Linked DNA regions of Homo sapiens: region 1 is linked to region 2. Evidence: fine-mapped expression QTL. A gene starts in region 2. The other region holds a variant in brackets. All regions are shown on one strand. Distances are from middle to middle. Region 1 overlaps CCDC62 (coiled-coil domain containing 62). Region 2 holds the start of HIP1R (huntingtin interacting protein 1 related).

Region 1 (11,383 bases), 23 kb after region 2:
AGTGAGCCAAGATCATACCACTGCACTCCAGCCTGGGTGACAGAGCAAGACTCTGTCTCAAAACAATAAATAAATAAATAAATAAAATTTAAAAATAAAAATAAACTGGCATGTAATCTTTATTCCATCAAAGTTCATGGATCCCATGAATTCTAGTCAACAAATTCTGATTAAAATTATCTGTCCAACAAATCCATAGAGACAGAAAGTAGATTGTGGTAACCAGTGGCTGTGGATGTGGGGTCTCCTTTTGGGGTGATTAAAATATTCTAGAATTAGATAGCGGTAGTGGCTGCACGATTTTATTAATATGATTTAAAAAAAACCACCAAATTGTACACTTTAGAAGGGTGAATTGTATGTAAATAATAAAATGTGAATTCTGTCTCTCTTTTTGATATAGGGTCTCACTCTGTCACCCAGGCTGGAATGCAGTGGCAAGATCATGGCTCACCACAGTCTTGACCTCCCAGGATCAAGTGATCCTCCTACCTCAGCCTCCTGAGTTGCTGGAACTACTGGTGCATGGCAGTGTGTCCAGCTAATTAAAAAAAATTTTTTATTTTGTAGAGGTGGGGTTTTTCAATGTTGCCCAGAGTGGTCTCAAACTCCTTGGCTCAAGTGATCCATCTGCTTTGGCCTCCCAAAGTGCTGGGATTACAGGCATTAGCCACCATGGCTGGCCTATATCTCAATTAAAAAAATGTATTTTAAAGAAATAGCTGCCAAAGAATGACTAGAAAAGTCATAAAGGTTCTCCCCAGACACAGGGGAAGAAGCAGCCTCACTGCATACATTTAAAGGGATAGCTAAGCACCAAAATAGTTTTGTCATTAAAAACCTTCCTCTGCCCCAATATAAATGCAACGCTTCACTAATGCCTCAGAGACAGCTTGTGAAGAAGAAATCTTCCTAGGAAACACCAGAGTCCATCACGGTTTCCACTTTGAAAAGTTTATATGGCACACATGGTATACTTTGAAAAATTTCTAGTTTTGGATCCTGTTCTGCTTTAAGGTAATCTCTGCAACTACCTGTTTAGGCTCATGGCAGTGAGCATCTTGATTCTAAAATGATTAATGTTCTAGTTTTGGATCTATTCGCGGCACATAGAAACTGCTCCAGGGAACTCTGAATCTAACAAAATACCAATCTGAAGGACTAAGCAAGAATTGCCATCAGAGAGCATTTCGTGAAATAAGGCAAAGATGTTTGCTCCCCTGCTTCTATTCAACACTCATCTGGAGGTCCTAGCCAGAGCAGTAAGGGAAGAAAATGAAATAAGGCATAAATATTGGAAAAAGGAATAAAACTGTCTCTATTCATGAATGACATGATTGTGTAGAAAATCCTAAGGAATCTACAAAAAAACTACTAGAATAGGCTGGGTGTGGTGGCTCACGTCTGTAATCCCAGCATTTTGGGAGGCTGAGGCGGGCGGATCACAAGGTCAGGAGATGGAGACCATCCTGGCTAACACGGTGAAAGCCCGTCTCTACCAAAAAATGCAAAAAATTAGCCGGGTGTGGTGGCGGGCGCCTGTAGTCCCAGCTACTCGGGAGGCTGAGGCAGGAGAATGGCGTGAACCCGGGAGGCGGAGCTTGCAGTGAGCCGAGATCGCGCCACTGGCACCAAGGCCTGGGCGACAGAGCGAGACTCCGTCTCAAAAAAGAAAAAAAAAAACCTGTTAAGTTGGAAGTAATCAAAATTTTAAATTTCGCTTTTTAAAAGACACTGTTAAGAAAAGCCAGGCCAGGCACAGCGGCTCACGCCTATAATCCCAGCACTTTGGGAGGCTGAGGCAGGAGGATTGCTTGAACCCAAGAGTTTGAGACCAGCCTGGGCAACATTGTGGGACCCTGTTTCTACAAAAAATAAAAACATCAGCTGGGTGTGGTTTCGTGTACGTGTAATCCCAGCTACTCAGGAGGCTGAGGTGGGAAGATCACTTGAGCCTGGGAGTTGGAGGTTCAAGTTGGCCCTGCATTCCAGCCTGGGTGACAGAGCAAGACTGTCTCTAAAAAACAAATAAATAAGCTGAGCATGGTGGCTCATGCTGATAGTCCCAACACTTTGGGAGGCTGAGGCAGGAGGATTACTTGAGGCCGGGAGTTCAAGCAGCCTGGCAAACAGAGTGGGCATGGCAGTGCGTGCCTGTGGTCCCAGCTACTTGGGAGACTGAGGTGGGAGGATTGCTTGAGCCCAGGAATTTGAGGCTGCAGTGAGCTGTGATCACGCCTGCGAATAGCTACTGCACTCCAGCCTGGGCAACAGAGGAAGATGCTGTCTCAAAAATAAATAAATACACAAAATTAAAATTAGGCCGGGCAGGGTGGCTCATGCTTGTAATCCCAACACTTTGGGAGGCCAAGGCAGGTGGATCACTTGAGGTCAGGAGTTCGAGACCAGCCTGGTCAACATGGTGAAACCCCGTCTCTAATAAAAATGCAAAAATTAGTGAGGCATGGTGGCAGGTGCCTGTAATCTCAGCTACTTGGGAGGCTGAAACAGGAGAATTGCTTGAACCCAGGAGGCAGAGAATTGCAGTGAGCTGAGATCGTGCCATTGCACCCCAGCCTGGGCAACAAGAGCAAAACTCAGTCTCAAAAAAAAAAAAAAAAAAATTAAAAGTCCATATCTGTTAGAGAGACATCATGATCATGAAATATTTATGAGTGACATGATATGATGCTGAGCTAAAATGCTTCCAAAGAAAACGTGTATGGATGGGGTAAGATAAAATCGATGGTGGTCAAAGGTGAGTGACCGTGCCATTCTTTCCACTTCAGTGCATATTTGAAATTTTCTTTCTTTCTTTCTCTCTCTCTTTTTTTTTTTTTTTTTTTTTTGAGGTGGAGCTTTGCTCATTGCCAAGGCTGGAGTGCAATGGCACAATCTCGGCTTACCATAACCTCCACCTCCGGGGTTCAAGCAATTCTCCTGTCTCAGCCTCCCGAGTAGCTGGGATTACAGGCATGTGCCACTATGTCCGGCTAATTTTGTATTTTTAGTAGAGACGGGGTTTCTCCATGTTAGTCAGGCTGGTCTTGAACTCCTGACCTCAGGTAATCCACCCGCCTCGGCCTCCCAAAGTGCTGGGATTACAGGCATGAGCCACCACGCCCGGCCTTGAAACTTTCTATAATAAAATTTGGTTTTTTAAAACATTTCCAGCTGGCCGTGGTGGCTCACGCCTGTAATCCTAGCACTTTGGGAGGCCAAGGTGGGTGGATCACTGGAGATCAGGAGTTTGAGACCAGCCTGGCCAACATGGTGAAACCCTGTCTCTACTAAAAATATAAAAATTAGCCGGGCATGGTAGAGTAGGCCTTTAGTCCCAGTTACTTGGGAGGCTGAGGCAGGAGAATCACTTGAACCCGGGAGGTGGAGGTTGCAATGAGCTGAGATCGTGCCACTGCACCTCAGCCTGGGCGACAAGAGCAAAACTCTGTACCCGCCCCCTCCAAGAAAAAAGTCCCCAAGAATTTATCTTCATATGCCCCAGATCATTAGAAAGAGGAAGTTTGGGTCCAGTGACATCTAAGTGTAACTTTTTCCTCCTTAAAACAAGCATGTTCCCTTTCCTCCCTAGAGACACAGAAACTCTCCCTCTAACAGAAAGGCCGCCCTGCCGGTGATATTTGCACACTGGTGTTCAGTGGTGTGTTTGGATGTGACAAATATAGTCAAGAGAAAATGAAACGCATACATTTGTGGCACTGCCAGTGAGATTCTCATGGCTGATGGGCAGCAGTGTGCTCAGCTCCAGGTCCGTCACCATCTGACGAGATTCCGCCAGCAAACGCTGGAGCTTGCTCGTGGGCGAGAAATCATCCTGGGAGGGTAACACAATTGAAGCCTACAGGAAATTAAGAGGCACCTTTAAATGCTTAGGTTTACAAACACAAATGCTAACTACCTAGGAATATTGTTTTCTTTTTTCTTTCTCTTGCTCTGACGCCCAGGCTGAAGTGCAGTGGCACAATCACAGCTGATTGCCTCAAGCTCCTGGGCTCGAGTGATCCTCCTGCCTCAGCCTCCTGAAAAGCTGGGACCATAGGTGTGTGCAACCACACCGAGCAATTTTTTTTTTGGTAGAGGTGGGATCTCACTATGTTGCCCAGGCTGGTCTTGAACTCCTGGCCTCAAGTTACCCTCCTGCCTCGGCCTCCCAAAGTGCTGGGGTTATAGGCGTGAGCCACTACACCCGATCACCTGTGAATATTTCTTTGTCTTTAGGTGTTACAAAGCAAAGCTGGACATCAAATAGTAGAATAAGAATAACTAAATTCATTCCTTTTCTTTCTTTCTTTCTTTCTTTCTTTCTTTCTTTCTTTCTTTCTTTCTTTCTCTCTCTCTCTCTCTCTCTCTCCCTCCCTCTCTCTCTCTTTCTTTTTTTTTTTTTTTGAGACGGAGTCTCGCTCTGTCACCCAGGCTGGAGTGCAGTGGCATCATCTCGGCTCACTTCAAGCTCCACCCACCTCAGCCTCCCAAGTAGCTGGGACTACAGGCACCCACCACCATGCCTGGCTAATTTTTTTTTGTATTTTTTAGTAGAGACGGGGTTTCACCACGTTAGCCAGAATGGTCTCAATCTCCTGACCTCGTGATCTGCCTGCCTCAGCCTCCCAAAGTGCTGGGATTACAAGTGTGAGCCACCGCACCCGGCCTCTTTTTTTTTTTTTTGAGACGGAGTTTTGCTCTTGTTGCCTAGGCTGGAGTGCAATAGTGTAACCTCAGCTCACTGCAACCTCCACCTCCCGGGTTCAAGTGATTCTCCTGCCTCAGCCTCCCGAGTAGATGCGGCTACAGTTGCCCGCCACCACACCTGGCTAATTTTGTATTTTTAGTAGAGACAGGGTTTCACCATGTTGGCCAGGCTGGTCTTGAACTTCTGACCTCCAGTGATCCATCCGCCTCGAACTCCCACAGTGCTAGGATTACAGGCGTGAGCCACTGCACCCAGCCCCCTTTATTTCTTAGAACCTACTCAGTTAAATAATTTGACTTAAACAGAACTTACTACAGCTAATGAAGTAACACCCATGCGATAAAAGAATCCTAGGCATTGGTTAACTCTCCTCAACCAACTTGTCAATGCTGTATTTAGCATGTCAAAATACTTGCAAAATAGGACAACATTAAAGGCTTATAAGCCTTGAAAAATATGTGGGTATGTGCCTTCGTTTATTCCTATTAAATTTCAACTTTGGGATGTGAAGTTTGGCATGAAAATTAGTCACTGCCAATTGCTCTTAAAGGGGCCTAGACTGAATTTTTTTTTTTTTTTTTTTTTTTTTTTTTTTTGCAGATGGAGTCTCACTCTGTTGCCAGGCTGGAGTGCAGTGGCGTGATCTCAGCTCACTGCAACCTCCAACTCC[C/T]GGGTTCAAGCAATTCTCCTGCCTTTCAGCCTCCCGAGTAGCTGGGACTACAGGCATGTGCCACCACGCCCAGCTAATTTTTGTATTTTTCGTAGAGACGGGGTTTCACCATGTTGGTCAGGATGGTCTCGATCTCCTGACCTTAGGTGATCCCCCTTCCTTAGCCTCCAAAAGTGCTGCGAGTACAGGCATGAGCCACCACCTGATTTTTTTTTTTTTTTAAGAAAACTTAATTTCAGCCGGGCACGGTGGCTCACGCCTGTAATCCCAGCACTTTGGGAGGCTGAGGCGAGCAGATCACCTGAGGTTGGGAGTTTGAGACCAGCCTGACCAACATGGAGAAACCCCGTCTCTACTAAAAATACAAAATTAGCCGGGCGTGGTGGCACATGCCTGTAATCCCAGCTACTAGGGAGGCTGAGGCAGGAGAATCGCTTGAACCTGGGAGGCGGAGGTTGCGGTGAGCCGAGATCGTGCCATTGCACTCCAGCCTGGGCAACAAGAGTGAAACTCCGTCTGAAAAAAAAAAAAAAAAAAGGAAACTTAATTTCTTTTTATTTATTTATTTATTTTTTATTATTATACTTTAGGTTCTAGGGTACATGTGCATAACGTGCAGGTTTGTTACATATGTATACATGTGCCATGTTGGTGTGCTGCACCCATTAACTCATCATTTACATTAGGTATATCTCTTAATGCTATCCCTCCCCCCTCCCCCCACCCCACAACAGGCCCCAGTGTGTGATGTCCCCCTTCCTGTGTCCAAGTGTTCTCATTGTTCAATTCCCACCTATGAGTGAGAACATGCAGTGTTTGGTTTTTTGTCCTTGTGATAGTTTGCTGAGAATGATGGTTTCCAGCTTCATCCATGTCCCTACAAAGGACACGAACTCATCATTTTTTATGGCTGCATAGTATTCCATGGTGTATATGTGCCACATTTTCTTAATCCAGTCTATCATTTTTGGACATTTGGGTTGGTTCCAGGTCTTTGCTATTGTGAATAGTGCCACAATAAACATACGTGTGCACGTGTCTTTATAGCAGCATGATTTATAATCCTTTGGGTATATACCCAGTAATGGGATGGCTGGGTCAAATGGTATTTCTAGTTCTAGATCCCTGAGTAATCGCCACACTGTCTTCCACAATGGTTGAACTGGTTTACAGTCCCACCAACAGTGTAAAAGTGTTTCTATTTCTCCACATCCTCTCCAGCACCTGCTGTTTCCTGACTTTTTAATGATCGCCATTCTAACTGGTGTGAGATGGTATCTCATTGTGGTTTTGATTTGCATTTCTCTGATGACCAGTGATGATGAGCATTTTTTCATGTGTCTGTTGGCTGCATAAATGTCTTCTTTTGAGAAGTGTCTATTCATATCCTTCGCCCATTTGTTGATGGGGTTGTTTGTTTTTTTCTTGTAAATTTGTTGGAGTTCATTGTAGATTCTGGATATTAGCCTTTTGTCAGATGAATAGATTGCAAAAATTTTCTCCCATTCTGTAGGTTGCCTGTTCACTCTGATGGTAGTTTCTTTTGCTGTGCAGAAGCTCTTTAGTTTAATTAGAACCCATTTGCCGATTTTGGCTTTTGTTGCCATTGCTTTTGGTGTTTTAGACATGAAGTCCTTGCCCATGCCTATGTCCTGAATGGTATTGCCTAGGTTTTCTTCTAGGGTTTTTATGGTTTTAGGTCTAACATTTAAGTCTTTAATCCATCTTGAATTAATTTTTATATAAGGTGTAAGGAAGGGATCCAGTTTCAGCTTTCAGCATATGGCTAGCCAGTTTTCCCAGCACCATTTGTTAAATAGGGAATCCTTTCCCCATTTCTTGTTTTTGTCAGGTTTGTCAAAGATCAGATAGTTGTAGATGTGTGGTATTATTTCTGAGGGCTCTGTTCTGTTCCATTGGTCTATATCTCTGTTTTGGTACCAGTACCATGCTGTTTTGGTTACTGTAGCCTTGTAGTATAGTTTGAAGTCAGGTAGCGTGATGCCTCTAGCTTTGTTCTTTTGGCTTAGGATTGACTTGACAATGCGAGCTCTTTTTTGGTTCTATATGAACTTTAAAGTATTTTTTTCCAATTCTGTGAAGAAAGTCATTGGCACCTCGCCATAGCCAGATGGTGTTTCACCATGTTGACCAGGCTGGTCTTGAACTTCTGACCTCAGGTGATCCACCCGCCTCAGCCTCCCAAAGTGCTGGGATTACAGGCATGAGCCACCACGCCCAGCCTATTATTATTTTTTAAGACAGGGTCTGGCTCTGTCGCCCAGGCTGAAGTGCAATGGCACAATCTCAGCTTGCTGCAGCCTCCGCCTCCCGGGCTCAAGTGATTCTTCCACGTCAACCTCTTGAGTGGCTGGGACCACAGGCACGAGCTACAACACCTGGCTAATTTTTGTATTTTTAGTAGAGATGGGGTTTCACCATGTTGGCCAGGCTGGTCTTCAACTCCTGACCTCAGGTGATCTGCCCACCTCAGCCTCCCAAAGTGCTGGGATTACAGGCATGAGCCACCACGCCCGGCCTGATGGCCTGATAAGTGTTTTGTTCGCATAGTGCAGAGAGGAGGTAAATCTGGAGAAGTAATTAAAGAAGGGATATTCTACACAGACATAAAGAATAGCGTCTCTTTGGGATTGAATAACTGGCTAGAACTTCTCTATCAGTTGAAATCGAAGCTATAAATAGATGGTGGTTTAGCGTGTGAAAAGGTGCACAACATTGTTAGTCATTAGGGGAATGAAAGTTAAAACCACACTGAGATACCTCTTCATACCTATTAGAATGTCTGGAATTTAAAAATTGACCATTGCAAGTATTGACTGGAATCTGGAGCAGCTGGGACCGGAGCATCAGCACCACACTGATGGTGGGAATGTAACTGGTATAACCACTTTGGAAAACATCTTGCAGTTCCTTAAAATGTTAAATATACCCCAGCACTTTGGGAGGCTGAGGCAGGAGGATTGCTTGAGGTAAGGAGTTTGAGACCACCCTGGGCAACATAACAAGACCACATCTCCACAACAAATGTAAAAATGAGCTGGGCATAATGGTTCATGCCTACAGTCCCAGCTAATTGGGAGGCTGCAGTGGGAGGATTACTTGAGCCCAGGAGTTTGAGATTGCAGTAAGCCAGGATGGCATCACTGCACTCCAGCTTGGGCGACAGAGTGAGACCCTGTCTCTAAAAAAAGAAAAAAAAAGGTTAAATATACACCTACCATATGAGCTAGCTAGCATTCCATTCCTAGATAAACGAAAAAAAAATGTGTCTATACAAAGACTTATGATACATGAATATGCAAGCAGCTTTATTTGTATTATCTAGCACACCAGAAACAACCCAAATGTCCACTGACAAATGAATGGCTAAATCACTGTGGTAATAGGTTGGTGCAAAAGTAATTGCGGTTTTTGCCATTACTTTTTTTTTGAGATTGAATCTCGCTCTGTCACCCAGGCTGGAGTCCAGTAGCACGATCTTGGTTCACTGCAACCCCTGCCTCCCGGGTTTAAGCAATTCTTCTGCCTCAGCATCCTGAGTAGCTGGGATTACAGGCACACACCAGCACACCAGGCTCATTTTTGTATTTTTAGTAGACAGGGGATTTCACCATGCTGGCCAGGCTGGTCTCGAACGCCTGACCTCAAGTGATCCGCCTGCCTCGGCCTCCCAAAGTGTTGGGATTACTTTTAATGGCCTACCATTACTTTTAATGACAAAGACCATACTTACTTTTGCATCAACCTAATATATCCACACAATAGGATACTTGTCAGCAACAAAAAGGAATTATTTATATACACAGTCACATAAGTTAATCTCAAAATAATTACACTGAGTGAAAGAAACAAGAGGGACACAAAAGTTTGAATGCATTTATATAAAATTCTAGAAAAGGCAAACTAATCTGGGTTACAGAAGACAGATTAGTGAGTGATTGTCTGGGAATAGGGAGGGACGCACAGGGCAGAGGAAGAATTCCAAAGGGGTTTGGGTGTAATGAATGTGTCACTATTAGTCTGTCACATACAGACTAATGTGTGGTAAATGGGATTTTATTATACAAGAAAATGTCTGGCCAGGTACAGTGCCTTGTGCCTGTAATCCCATTAGTGGGATGAAGATTTCAATTTGCCACCCTGGTATCTTGGTAAATCATAGATGTCAGATGTTTACCTTTTTTTTTTTTTTTTTTTGAGACAGAGTCTCACTCTGTTGCCAGGCTGGAGTGCAATGGTGCAATCTCGGCTCACTGCAAACTCTGCCTCCTGGTTTCAAGCGATTCTCCCGCCTCAGCCTCCCAAGTAGCTGAGATTACAGGCACCCGCCACTACACCTGGCTAATTTTTTTATTTTAGTAGAGATGGGGTTTCACCATGTTGGTCAGGCTGGTCTCGAACTCCTGACCTCAGGTTATCTGCCCACCCCGGCCTTCCAAAGTGCTGGGATTACAGGCGTGAGCCACTGCGCCTGGCGATGTTTTCCTCTTTTATGTTTTTAAAATTTTATTGAAACAAAAAATAGAGGCAGGGTCTTGCTATGTTGCCCATGCTGATCCTGAATTCCTGGGCTTAAGCAATTCTTCCACTTTGGCCCCCAAGAGTGTTGGAATTACAGGCACGAGGCACTGTACCTTGCCACACATTTTCTCATATAATGAAATCCCATTTACCACACATTAGTCTGTATGCATGTCTCTGCAGATAGAGAAATCTGTAAGCAAGCCCACCAACGTGTCACCTGGGTCTCTCTAGACACTGCCAGGGGTTGTGTATTTGGAGGAAGGGGCAGCTGAGACCAAGCAGTTAGGTGATATCTATATTTCTGTATTGTTCTTGTGGTTTGTTTTTCTTTTTCTTTTTTCTTTCTTTTTTTTTTTACAACCAACATATATCAAGTTGCCAAAAAAAAAAAAAATACAATTTTTCTCGAAAGAAAAAAATAGTCCCAGCACGGTGATTCACACTTATAATCCCAGCACACTTTGGGAGGCCAAGGCAAGAAGATCACTTGAGCCCAAGTGTTCAAGACCAGACTGGGCAACAAATTGAGACCCTGTCTCTACAAAAAAATGAGAAAATTAGCTGGGCGTGGTGGCATGTGCCTGTAGTTGCAGCTACTTGGAAGGCTGAGGCAGGAGGATCACTTGAGCCCAGTAGGTTGAGGCTGCAGTGAGCCACGATTGCACCACTGCACTACAGCCTGGGTGACTGAGTATCCTGTCTCAAAGAAACAGAACAAAACACAAAATAATAAAATAAATAAAAGGATTGCCTTAAAAGCATCTTAAAATCCTAGAATTAAAAAAAAAAAAAAAAAAACGGAGGAATAGCCAAAATAAGCAAGCTAACAGTGGTTGCTAGAGAAGCATTAAAAGCTGGTGAGAGGCCTGGCTTGAGTAAGCTGGGGATGTCTAAGCAAAATACGAACCTTTTCATTGAATGCTGGTGCATCTTTGTAGATTAACAAACTCGTAGGTGAGTTCTTTTTATTGGAAGAGGACTCCGTCTCATCTTCTCTCAAGGCAGATTTTGAAGAACCCAAAGAGTGGGAATCTTGGATGGCAATTAGCTCACTAAGAATAAGAAAACCCAACAAAAACAAATATCTTAAAACAATATCATACATAGATCACTCTTATACTCAAAAGTATCTTAAAAGGACAAATAAGTGTTTTTGTTATTGAAGCAGGTCAAGTTTGAGTAGAACATTATAGATTGGAATAGAATATTATAAGTTAATGCATACCTTTTGCAAATAAGAATTAAAATAAGGCTGGGCATGGTAGCTCATGCCTATAATCCCAGCACTTTGGGAGGCTGATCTGGGTGGATCACGAGGTCAGGAGATCAGGACTGTCCTGGCCAACATGGTGAAACCCCATCTCTACTAAAAACACAAAAATTAGCTGGATGTGGCCGGGAGCGGTGGCTCACACCTGTAATCCCAGCACTTTGGGAGGCAGAGGCAGGCGGATCAG
Region 2 (11,383 bases):
TGGGCATCAAAACACATCAGAGACAGGGAGGGGGAGGTCAAGGATGGGTGGCCCCTTCCCACCCCAACCTGGACCAAGAACAGCCTCTGGAATAGCTCTGCCAGGGAGGCAATATGCAGCCCAGGGGTCGGGAAGTCAGCGGCCTGCCGGGCATCACCACGAGGGCATCACCATGTGGGCTGATGGGGTGGAACCGAGCAGAGGATGTCACGGGGCGAGACAGCAGTGCGCATGCCCAGGAACAACGAGCTCAACGCCCATGCCATGCTGCGGGCAAATCACTCCTATACACGTAAATGTTGCCCTTTTCTAAAAGCCACCAGGTGATTCTAACACTTGCATTGTCCGGCACGGTAGCCGCTGGCCGGTGCGGGCTGTGAGTATTGGAAAGGTGGTGAGTCCAGACTGAGATCAGCTGTGAGTGTCCAGTGCATACCTATTTCAAAGATTTAGTAGGAGAAAAAGAATGTAAATTCTCCTATTCATAATTTTTGTGGCAATTACATGTTGAAAGGGCTAGCTTTTGGATATACTGGGTTAAATAAAATATGCTATTACAGTTAATCGCACCTGTTTCTGTTGACTTTTCTAGTAGTTACTAGACAATCTAAAAGTACACACGTGGCTTGCCTCTGGTTCCTCCTGGACAACACTGCTCTACTGTGTGCCGGGGCTGAGAAGCCCTCAGTTGTCAATAAATGTTAATCTTGACAGGATTTTGGTTTCACGGGGGATGCTAAGCATGTATGTCACCAACCTGGAAAATTGGACCTATGAACTGTTTCCACATATTGCTGCCCTAGACAGTCCCTGCCCCACAGGAACCCCTTACACCTGGGTAGTTTCATGTCTACAGTTAATGCTCACCCGCCAGACTTGGCTCACTCAGCAGTGGCCAGAGGCCTTGCAGTGTAGTAAAGGGTTTCTCTCATCCTAACCTGAGAGGAATCTTCTGGGCTTGATCTCCATCCTGTGGGCCTGCAGTGGAAACTGAGGCCCAGTGAAGCAGAAAGGTTCACAGATCAGGAAAAGGCAGGACTCACCATTAGCATTTCCAGTACTCCTAACTGAGTCCTTCTTCATGATATGCTTCAAAGATGCTTTCTTCTCTAGATGTTAAACTTTTCAGCCGAGGAAGGGAAGGGAGAAAGACGGTTGGGCCAAGTATCTGCTGAGGCCCTTCTATGCCCTAGGTGCTCTTTCATGTTTACATACTGGATGTATTAGTTCCTTATGGCTGCCATAACAAATCACACAAACTCGCAGTTCTGGAGGTCGGAAGTCTAAAACAGGTCTCACAGGACTAAAAGCAAAGTGTCAGAAAGGCTGTGTTTCCTCCTGGAGGCTCTAGGGAAGAATCCATTTCCTCGCCTTTTCCAGGCTGTGGAGGATGCCCATACTCCTTGGCTAGTGGCTCCTCCCCAGCAGCAGGCAGTGAGTCTTTCTCACATGGACTCAGTCCGACCTCCTCTCCTGCCTCCCTTGTCCACATTTAAAGACCTTTGTGATTACACTGAGCCCACCTGGTAGCCCAGGAGAATCGCCCCATCTCAAGGACCATCTCAGCTGATGAAAAACTCTAATTCCACCTGCAACGCCTTACTAAGTCATTAACGTAGTCACAGGTTCTAGCTGCCACACGGTCTCTCTCTTACACCTTACAACAGCCCTATACGATAGCTGGAACGATCTGTATGGTTTTTTTTTCAGACAAGGACATAGATTTACAAGTTAAGCAACTTGCCAGGGACACAGGCTAGAGCCTAGGTCTATCTACCTACTAGTGCCTTTATGATACCACACCCTCTTTTTAAATGGTACAGGCAGTGTTCAGGTTCCAAATACAGGCATGCTGTATTTTGTAGTATTCTGTATTCAGAAAACAGCAACAAGACAATAAAAGTTTGTCACCTCCATTTTGAAAAGGATTTTTTTTTTTTTTAACCAAAGGGACTAAAGTCATAGGGAAGAAAAGCATACACTGGTTTTCTGGACATTCCCCTGGGATTATACACACACACCATGCAACAATCACAGGCACCAGCTCCCAGCAGGCACATGATCGCCTCTCTTCACACTCCTGAGCGCTAACCCCACAGATATTTGCAAACAGGGTGTGTCCTGTCAAAAAAGCTCACAGGAAAGCAATTATCTTCCTCCTGACCCAGGAGCCCAGGGGAGGAAAGCGAGGCTGGCAGGCTAGTGAATATTTAAATTCTAAGCCAGCCTAGTGCTCCTGCCACAGCACACAGTGCTGTGGTCAATGCAAGACAAGCAGCGTATTACAAAGGAAGCCAGGTCCCTGGACTGCATGTGCTATTTTCTGTCCCGAAGGAGACATGGAAGTAACAACCTCAGCTCTCCAGGTCCTTTTCCACCACGGGACCTGGCTGGCGGCTCACCTGATTATTTCTGGGAACGATCTAATTAAATATTAACCACGTACAAAACCTCATTCTTACATTCCTCAATAAGTCACTGTGAAGACGAGCAAACCCAGACAATGAACTCAAACTCCAACTTTCCAGAAAATGGGGCCCTAGAATAGGTAAGACCTGTGACATTCACCCATTACAAAGTTATTCATTGTTAGTGGCCCTCTTAGCCTCTGAGAAAAAACCAGAGCAAAACAAAACAAAACAATCCACCTTCGGAGAGGTGCCTGTAATCCCAACATCTCGGGAGGCCGAGGTGAGGCGGGTGGATCGCCTGAGGTCAGGAGTTCGAGACCAGCCTGTCCAACATGGTGAAACACCTTCTCTACTGCAAACACAAAAATTAGCCAGGTGTGGTGGCGCACGCTTGTAGTCCCAGCCACTTGGGAGGCTGAGGCAGGAGAATCACTTGAACCCGGGAGGCGGAGGTTGCAGCGAGCTGAGATCATGCCATTGCACTCCAGCCTGGGCAACGAGAGAGACTCTGTCTTTAAAAAAAAAAAAAAAAAATCCACCTTCTTGTGTATCAAACCAACCACTAAAATGTGTGGTCCTGTATCAGAGATTCTCTCTTTGACACTCAGGAAGGTTGCCCTTGACTTCTTATCATTTAAGAGTAAGATCAATGAAGTTGGTCCTTCACATCCCATCTCCTCCATGTAGCAATCAGACCTCTTTATACGTCCTCAAAGGCACGAGAAAAAACTCAGTGAATAAACAAAGTTTCTGACAACATCCAGATATGTCTGCCAATTCAGGTTTTCTCCCTATGATCTACAAGTTCTTGGCACAATTAATTATGTATTGGTGACTTTAAATTTTTTTAAAATGACGGGCTATCCGGGCTGAACCAGTTGATGGTGATGAAGATCACAAGGCTAAATTGGTAATTTGCAGCCACCTGGGTTCCAGCACTTCGCATTTCTAAAGCCTTGATATCCTCAGGATTTATTATCGCTTTCTGGGTCAATCCCAAGCACAAAGGTTAGAAGGTCTCCCTGCGTTCTCTCTCATTTCAAAACGAAAGCTGTTGTAGAGTGCGTGTGCTAACTAGATGTGAAGGCAACCGCAGAAGTCATAGCTCTCTGCAAGGACAAGTGGGACGGAACTTGCAAATAGCCGCCACAAACGCAAATGTCACCAACCTGCTTTAGACAGGAGTGGGAGGGGTCCTCTGGCTTCCTTTATCTCTAGAGTAAAATTTTTCAGCCATTTCAGTCTTGGTTGACTTATTTTGGCAAATAAACAAGTATGCCCCCCTCCACCGCCCATCCCCCAAGCCTGAGAGCACTTCAAGAGTTTGTAAAATAAAAAGCAACAGGAAACCAGAAACGCAGCAACGTCTGCATCGTGGGTCCCCGGCACAAACACAAGTACAAAACGCACACCCGCGCCCTTATTTCATTTCTAACGCCTTCCCAGGATAGGCATCATCTGGAAGAGTTACAAGCGTGGGAGGCGCAGGAAGGGAGCCCCAGGAAGTTTCTGTCTGTCGGGCGCCGGTATTTAATGAGGGGGTGTGCACCTATTTATACGTGGGCAGCGCTCGGGCAAACAAGTCTGGCGACATACGAGAAGCTTTTCACCCAGCAAATAATAGGAGACTGTGCAGCCCTGGGAAACCGCTCACGAGAGAAGGAAGCTGGGAGTTTAAGGAATTTCCTTTAAGGAAATTGCCCGTGGGGGCATCGGTTTCAGGGGGTAGGAGACGGGGGCAGGAGCCGGCAAGGAGCGGCACGGAAGGTCGGGGACCCCAGTCGGGCCGCGCCGGCCCCGGGAGCACCTGGATCCCCAGCCCCCTCGACCCCCGGCGCGCTGGGCTCGCGCACACCCAACCCCGGCCCCATCTCCGTCCCCCGCCGCCTCAGCTCCGGCGCTCCCGGCCCGCGCACACCCTGACCCCGGCCCCCTCAGCCCCGGCGCCTCTGGGCCCGAGCGCCCGGCGGGAGCGGGGAGCGCGGCTTCCGGTTCACCTGCGCGCCGGTCGGCTCGGGCCGCGGAGGCCGGCGGGGGGCGGCAGCGGAGCTCTCGGAGAGCCCGGGCGGACACAGGCCCTGCCCCCGCGCCGTCCCCCGCCCCTGGCCGGCGCCTCCCGGGCCCCAGCCGTTCGCGCGTGAGGGGTCAGGGACGCCGCTTGCCCGCCCGCCCGCCGCCGCCCGCCGCCCGCCGCCCGCCGCCCGCTCGCCTGGGTCTTGTCGAACTGCTCGCGCTCGGCCTCCAGGCTGTGGCCCGGCCTGCGGCTCAGCACCCGCGCCGGCACGTTCTTGATGCTGTTCATCCTGCCGCCGCCGCCCGCTTTTGTCCGGCTCCGTCCGCGCGACTCACAGCCTCACGGTCCGGCAGCCCCAGCCTAGGCACCGCGAGGCCACCGCGCCGCGCCCGGGCCCGCCCGCCGGGGAGGAGCCCGCCTCGCCCCGCCCCCAACTCCAGGGCACGCCCCTCCCCCGCACACCTCCAAACCCGCCCCCCGCGCCCGCAAACGCCTCGCCCGCCCCCAACTCCAGGGCGCGCCCCTCCACCCGCACACCTCCAACCCCACCCCCCGCGATCTCGGGACACGCGCCTCTCCCCGCACATCCCCAACCCCCCATCCCGCGGCGACCCCGGCACACGCCCCGCCCCCCGCACACCTCCAACCCCCACCTCACTCACAAGGTTGGGGCACAGGCCAAACGCCCCCCCAGCTCCTCCCCACCTCTAATCCCCTCCCTAAACCCGGAGGGGAGGGTAGGGGAAGGGGGAGGGGGAACCCCTCCCTCCTCCTTCCACCCAGGGTAGGGACCCCAGCCAATTCCCTCTCCCCACCCCTCCTCCGAACTCACTAAGTCTTGTCTGCACCAGGGCAAGATCTGGTTAATTGGAGAAAATCTGGCCTCCATGAGTCTGGTCGGTGGCAGCACAGATAGACGCTTTTTTTCCTTTTTGGTCTTAATGTATGTGTCAAAAGGCACACAATGACACTCTCCCCTCTTTGTGCAATTCTGACATAGCTGCAGCTGTTATCCATGCGGGGATGCAGGATGCATTTCCAGAGACGCCGCCGGCTCCGCAACCGGACACCTCGCCAGCTCCAGGGACAATGGGGGCTGAGGCCGGGCGCTGTTAGGCTGGCACAGAAGGCAGGCGGATCTGAACAGCAAAGTACACCGAGGAGATGCCGCCAGGGGTGGCGTGAGGCTTTTTAAAAACATTATTATTGGCTTTCCCTTAAAATTACTGGTCACAAGACTGAAGTAAAAAAATAAATAAAAGCCCAGAGTCCTCTCTAAGCGTAGCTCTCAGATGGGTATTGTGTTTCTGCTGTTTCCCTTTCCTATCGGAATGCAGATGTGGAATCATGCATAAAGGTCCCTTGCTTTTGAAGGGAGAGGCACCGCCTGCCTGTAAGGAGGAAAATGACGCCCACGTAATCCTGACCCTTGTCTCCCTAGTGAGACTGTAACCTGTCTGAGGTCAGAGACCCTTTCCTTTCCTTTCCTTTCCTTTCCTTTCCCTTTCCCTTTCCTTTCCTTCCTCCTTCTTTTCTTTCTTTTCTCTCTTTCTCTCTCTTCTTTCTTTCTCTTTCTTTCTTTCTTTTCTTTTCTTCTCTTTCTTTCTTTTCTTTTTTTTTAACCGAGCTTCACTCTTGTTGCCTAGGCTGGAGTGCAATGGCACAATCTCACCTCACCGCAACCTCCGCCTCCTGGGTTCAAGCAATTCTCCTGCCTCAGCCTCCCAAATAGCTGGAATTACAGGCATGTGCCACCACGCCTGGCTAATTTTGTATTTTTAGTAGAGACAGAGTTTCTCCGTGTTGGTCAGGCTGGTCTCGAACTCCCGACCTCAGGTGATCCGCCCGCCTCGGCCTCCCAAAGTGTTGGGATTACAGGCGTGAGCCACCACACCCCGCCAGGGACCCTTTTCTTTAACTGATTCCTCACCCTCCAGCCCAAGAGCTAGAGCTGACCCCAAAAGATAACATTTGCCAAGACTCTCCTGTCACTGCACCAAAAGGAGAAATTAATCCTGTTTTCTCTAATTCCAATCACTAAAAAGCTTCTTTATCAGAATAACGGTAGAATCACAATAGCTGATATGTACTGAATGCTTATTATTTGGCAGGCACTGGGCTAAACCCTTCATATGTAACTTAGTCAACTTAGTTGATAGCTGTGCTCTAATAAAGACCACAGTAAAGGGGCTTTTTGCGGTACTCCAGCTGTTTCTCACACTCCTTTTTCCACACGGAACAAAAGTGGTTCTCCTGTGACCCTTCACGCATATACAGCATCCCTTTTCAACCAGGCAACAGCCCCTGTAGGTCTAGCACATCTGCCACAGAGACTTCCCATTAGCAACTGGCTTTTTAAATAATCACAGAGCCTATTACTGTGCCGGGCACCAGGCTCAGCATCTGTTAAACAGTATCTCACTTATTCTTCTTTAAAGTTGTTGATGAGGCTCGGCACAGTGGCTCACGCCTGTATTCCGAGCACTTTGGGAGGCTGAGGCAGGTGGATCACTTGAGCTCAGGAGTTCGAAACCATTCTGGGCAACATGGTGAAACCCCATCTCTACCAAAAAATACGAAAAACTTAGCTGGCCGTGATGGCGTGCCTGTAGTCCCAGCTACCCAGGAGGCTGAGGTGGGAGGATCACTTAGGCCTGCAAGGCAGAGGTTGCAGTAAGCTGAGATCATGCCACTGCACTCCAGCCTAGACAACAGAGTGAAACCTTCTCTCAAAATAAATAAATAAAAAATAAAGCATCAACAACTTTATTTTTATTTATTTATTTTTTTTGAGACAGGGTCTGGCTTCGTTACCCAGGCCGGAATGCAGTGGCATAATCATAGCTCACTGCAATTTCTGCCTCCTGGGCTCAAGTGATCCTCCCACCTCAGCCTTCTAAGTAGCTGGAACTGGAGGGATGCACTATCATGCCCAGCTAATTTTTTTTTTTTTTTGAGATGGAGTCTCACTCTGCCACCAGGCTGGAGTGCAGTGGCACGATCTTGGCTCACTGCAACCTCTGCCTCCCGGGTTCAAGCAATTCTCCTGCCTCAGCCTCCCAAGTAGCTGGGACTACAGGCGCCCGCCACCACGCCCAGCTAATTTTTGTATTTTTAGTAGAGACAGAGTTTCACCATGTTGGCCAGGATGGTCTCGATCTCTTGACCTCGTGATCTACCCACCTCGGCTTCCCAAAGTCCTGGGATTACAGGCATGAGCCACTGCGCCTGGCCATGCCCAGCTAATTTTTAAAGTTTTTTTGTAGAGACAGAGTCTTGCTAAGTTGTCCAGGCTGGTCTCAAATTCCCGGGCTCAAGTGAATTCGCCCACCTTGAAAGTACTGGGATTACAGGCCGAAGCCACTGCACCTGGCCTCTTGATGGTATTTTTTACAGACCAACAAACAAGCTCAGGTTCAGAGAGTTTAGCCCAGGTTCACACAACTGGTAAACGCTGCATTCGGGATCCAGACCCAGATGTGCCTGATTTCAAGGCCAGTGCCCGCAACACCCATGCCATTTGGACTACATTTTGTGGTCTATGACTTTCAGTACTATACTACCTCAGGCTTGCTGTTTAGGACCTGAGAGCACTCTCCTAACACATCTCTAAGGGATTGTACTTTATGTGCTTGTAGGTAAGATTTTGAGCTATTAGAGGGCCACCCTGTATTACTCAGTTTTATGTACTCAGTGCCTAGCAGGGCACCTGGCACATAGCAATGTTCAATATGTATGTCAAATGAAGGGCTGAAAGAGTGAGTAAACAAATACCTCATTTGGTATACTTCAACATACAGCTGATCTCACGAAAGAGTATCACTGAGGACATAAGGATACAAACTTCCCCAATCTTTTGTTTGTTTGTTTTTGTTTTTGAGACAGGGTTGCCCTCTGTCACCCAGGCTGGAGTGCAGTGGCATGATCTCAGCTCACAGCAACCTTCGCTTCCTGGGTTCCAGCAATTCTCCTGCCTCAGCCTCCTGAGTAGCTGAGATTACAGGCGTGCGCCACCACAGCCTGGCTAATTTTTGTATTTTTTGTAGAGACAGGGTTTCACCATGTTGGTCAAGCTGGTCTTGAACTCCCAACCTCAGGTGATCCACCTGCCTCGACCTCCCAAAGTGTTGGGATTACAGGCGTGAGCCACTGTGCCTGGCCCAAACTTCCCCACTCTTAATTTTTCTGGTTCATCTCTCTAACATCTTCAGGCAGGAGGCCTGGTCTACTATTGTCCCTGTCACTGACTGGCTTTTTTTTTGGCGGGGGGGATACGGGGTCTTGCTTGCTCTGTTACCCCTGCTGGAGTGCAGTGGCTGGATTATGGCTCATTGCAGCCTCAACCTCCTGGGCTCAAATGATCCTCCCACCTCAGCCTCCAGAATAGCTGGGACCACAGGTGTGCACCACCATGCCTGGCTAATTTTTAAATTTTTTGTAGAGACGGGGGTCTCACCACGTTGCCCAGACTGGTCTTGAACTCCTGGACTCAAGCAATCCTCCCACCTTAGCCTCCCAAAGTGCTGGCATTACAGGCAGGAGCCACTGCTCCCGGCCTGAGATTCTTCATGCCATCAGAATCAGGGTTCTGTTTTGGTGTATCTCGAGGGCTGTTGAATTCCTGCTCACCCCTATTACAAAAGCAAAGCAATTGGAATACAAATAAGACCTCGTTTTAAGGAAAATCCAAGATGCACAGGAGAGTTTACATCATCTGGCCCACTAAAACATGGTATGCTACCACACCCACACTGACTCATCGACTCGTATGCATGATCTGGCCCCAGCCTCTGTCCCTGGCTTCATCTTGCACCATCCTGGCCCATCAGGTCCCAGATGCGTCATGTTCCCTCCCACCTCAGAGCCTTTGCACATGCTGTTCCTACTGCCTGGAATTCTCTTCTGCTTCCCGTTCGCCCTACTTAGCATCCACTTGTCTTTAACTCTTGGCTCAGATGTCACTTCTTTAAGGAAGCATTCTCTTAACACTCCACCCTTCACCTGAGTCCCTATTATAAGCTGTCATCATATCTCAAAGCTTTCTTTTGTAGCACTAACCAGTCTCTTGTGAACTATGTATGGGATTCTTAGATTAGTGTGTTTCTACGACTAGATTGTCTGCTTTGCTCATTGTTGTGTCTCCAGTGGCCAGCAAAGCACCTACTGTGTGCTCAAAATTCTTTGATTTTTTGTTGGGTTTCTTTTTGTTGTTGTTGTGGTTGGGTTTCTTAAGCATGCATCTGGCTGAGAACCCAGACATCATCCTTTAAAGAACTGATTCATGTACACTTTTCATTCAATCAACTTCTCTCAAAGACCATTCTGGGTGTTTTTTGTTTGTTTGTTTGTTTGTTTGAGACAGAGTCTGGCTCTGTTGCCCAGGCTGGAGGCATGGCTCAATCTCAGCACACTGCAACCTCTGCCTCCCAGGTTGAAGTGATTCTTGTGCCTCAGCCTCCTGAGTAGCTGGGATTACAGGCACCCACCACCACGCCCAGCTAATTTTTGTATTTTTAGTAGAGAGGTGTTTCGCCATGTTGGCCAGGCTGGTCTCGAACTCCTGATCTCAAATGATGTGCGAGCTTTGGCCTCTCTAAGTGCTGGGATTACACGCGTGGGCCACTGCACCTGGCCCCATTCTGGTTTTTAAACCTCCTTGTCAGCTGCAGTCTTGATGAATGTGTCTGGTTTCTTATTTTGATCCTGTTCACTCTGTTCTCTATCACACTGGAGGTTGCTAAGATTATTCTGTTGAAGGCCTAGAATAATGAACTTTCCTGCAATGTGTCCTAACAAAATCATCATCAAATGGCTCAAGAGAAACAAAAGTACAACACTGCAAACCCACCACCCCAGCTACAGGTGTCAAACCACACAAAGCCACAGGAGAAAACTCCAGGATCAGTTTGCCAGACCATAACAAGGATTCAGTCTTCAGTCTCCTTCCTGGAAGGTATGGAGCCAACCTTATCCCACACAGCCAAGAAGTTCTAGACGCATTCTCTTGGCACTTTTGGGGTAAAGCTGCTTTTAGTGTTTATGTTTTATCTTAATTCAGAACTTTTTTTCTTTGGGGGTATTTCTATTTCTGTTTTTAAATATCTGTTGGCCGGGCGCGGGGGCTCACACCTGTAACCCCAGCACTTTGGGAGGCTGAGGTGGGCGGATCACCTGAGGTCAGGAGTTCGAGACCAGCCTGGCCAACATGGTGAAACCCCGTCTCTACTAAAAATACAAAAATTAGCCTGGCATGGTGGCAGGTGCCTGTAATCCCAGCTATTCGGGAGGCAGAAGAATCTCTTGAATCTGGGAGATGGAGGTTGCAGTGAGCTGACATCGTGCCACCGCACTTCAGCCTGGGTGACAGAGTGAGACTCCATCTAAAGAAAAAAAAATTAGGCATGGTGGCACGTGCCTGGAGTCCTCGCTAATTGGGAGGCTGAAGCAGGAGAATCACTTGAGCCCAAGAGTTTGAGGCTACAGTGAGCTATGATGATACCACTGCCCTCCAGGCTGGGTGACAGAGTGAGACCCTGTCACTAAAAATAAAATTAAAAAAAAAATCCATTCACAGATTCTAAAAATACCCTTATATCAGTCTTTTCCAATGCTGAGATTACTTCTGGCAGGCAGATTGTAGTATAATTCATTTGCCTCCTCTTCAGATGTGTTGATCTTAAGAATGTTGCTGATAAGACATAAATGCTAAAATCTAGTTTTATCTTGTAACTATTTCAAATACTCTATGAGACTGCCTCTGTGCATCCATTAAAGTATAGAAAAAAAAAGGAGACTGCCTCTCTAACAGAAATTGCTCAAAGCTTAGGTCAGGGGTATCTGCACTCCACGTTCACTGCAGCACTGCTCACAACAGCCAAGATGTGGAAGCAACCTAAATGCCCATCAACAGATGAGTGGATAAAGAAATGTGGTGGCTCACGCCTGTAATCCCAGCACT

The links. PIP is the estimated chance that this variant, and not a neighbour inherited with it, causes the effect.
Region 1: its variant is the best candidate, but not a certain one, in a credible set for the expression of HIP1R in caudate (GTEx, PIP 0.68).

The regions. Positions count from the first base shown.
Region 1 is chr12:122,805,746-122,817,128 of GRCh38, reverse strand. CCDC62 (coiled-coil domain containing 62) reads right to left here. Exons shown (of 13, transcript NM_201435.5): 10 at 10,834-10,978; 11 at 3,710-3,859. Among named protein-coding and RNA genes, the nearest start is that of HIP1R, 24 kb to the left of the region's middle. RefSeq lists an enhancer at 3,452-3,531 and a silencer at 4,717-4,892. The variant C/T (reference allele first, on the strand shown) is at 5,382.
Region 2 is chr12:122,828,881-122,840,263 of GRCh38, reverse strand. It overlaps HIP1R (huntingtin interacting protein 1 related), which reads right to left and starts at 4,807. Exons shown (of 32, transcript NM_003959.3): 1 at 4,621-4,807. The coding sequence starts at 4,713. It overlaps LOC124903040 (a long non-coding RNA gene), which reads left to right and starts at 5,031. Exons shown (of 2, transcript XR_007063501.1): 1 at 5,031-5,090; 2 at 5,426-5,709. RefSeq lists silencers at 4,296-4,495, 4,666-4,905, 10,376-10,576 and an enhancer at 5,156-5,205.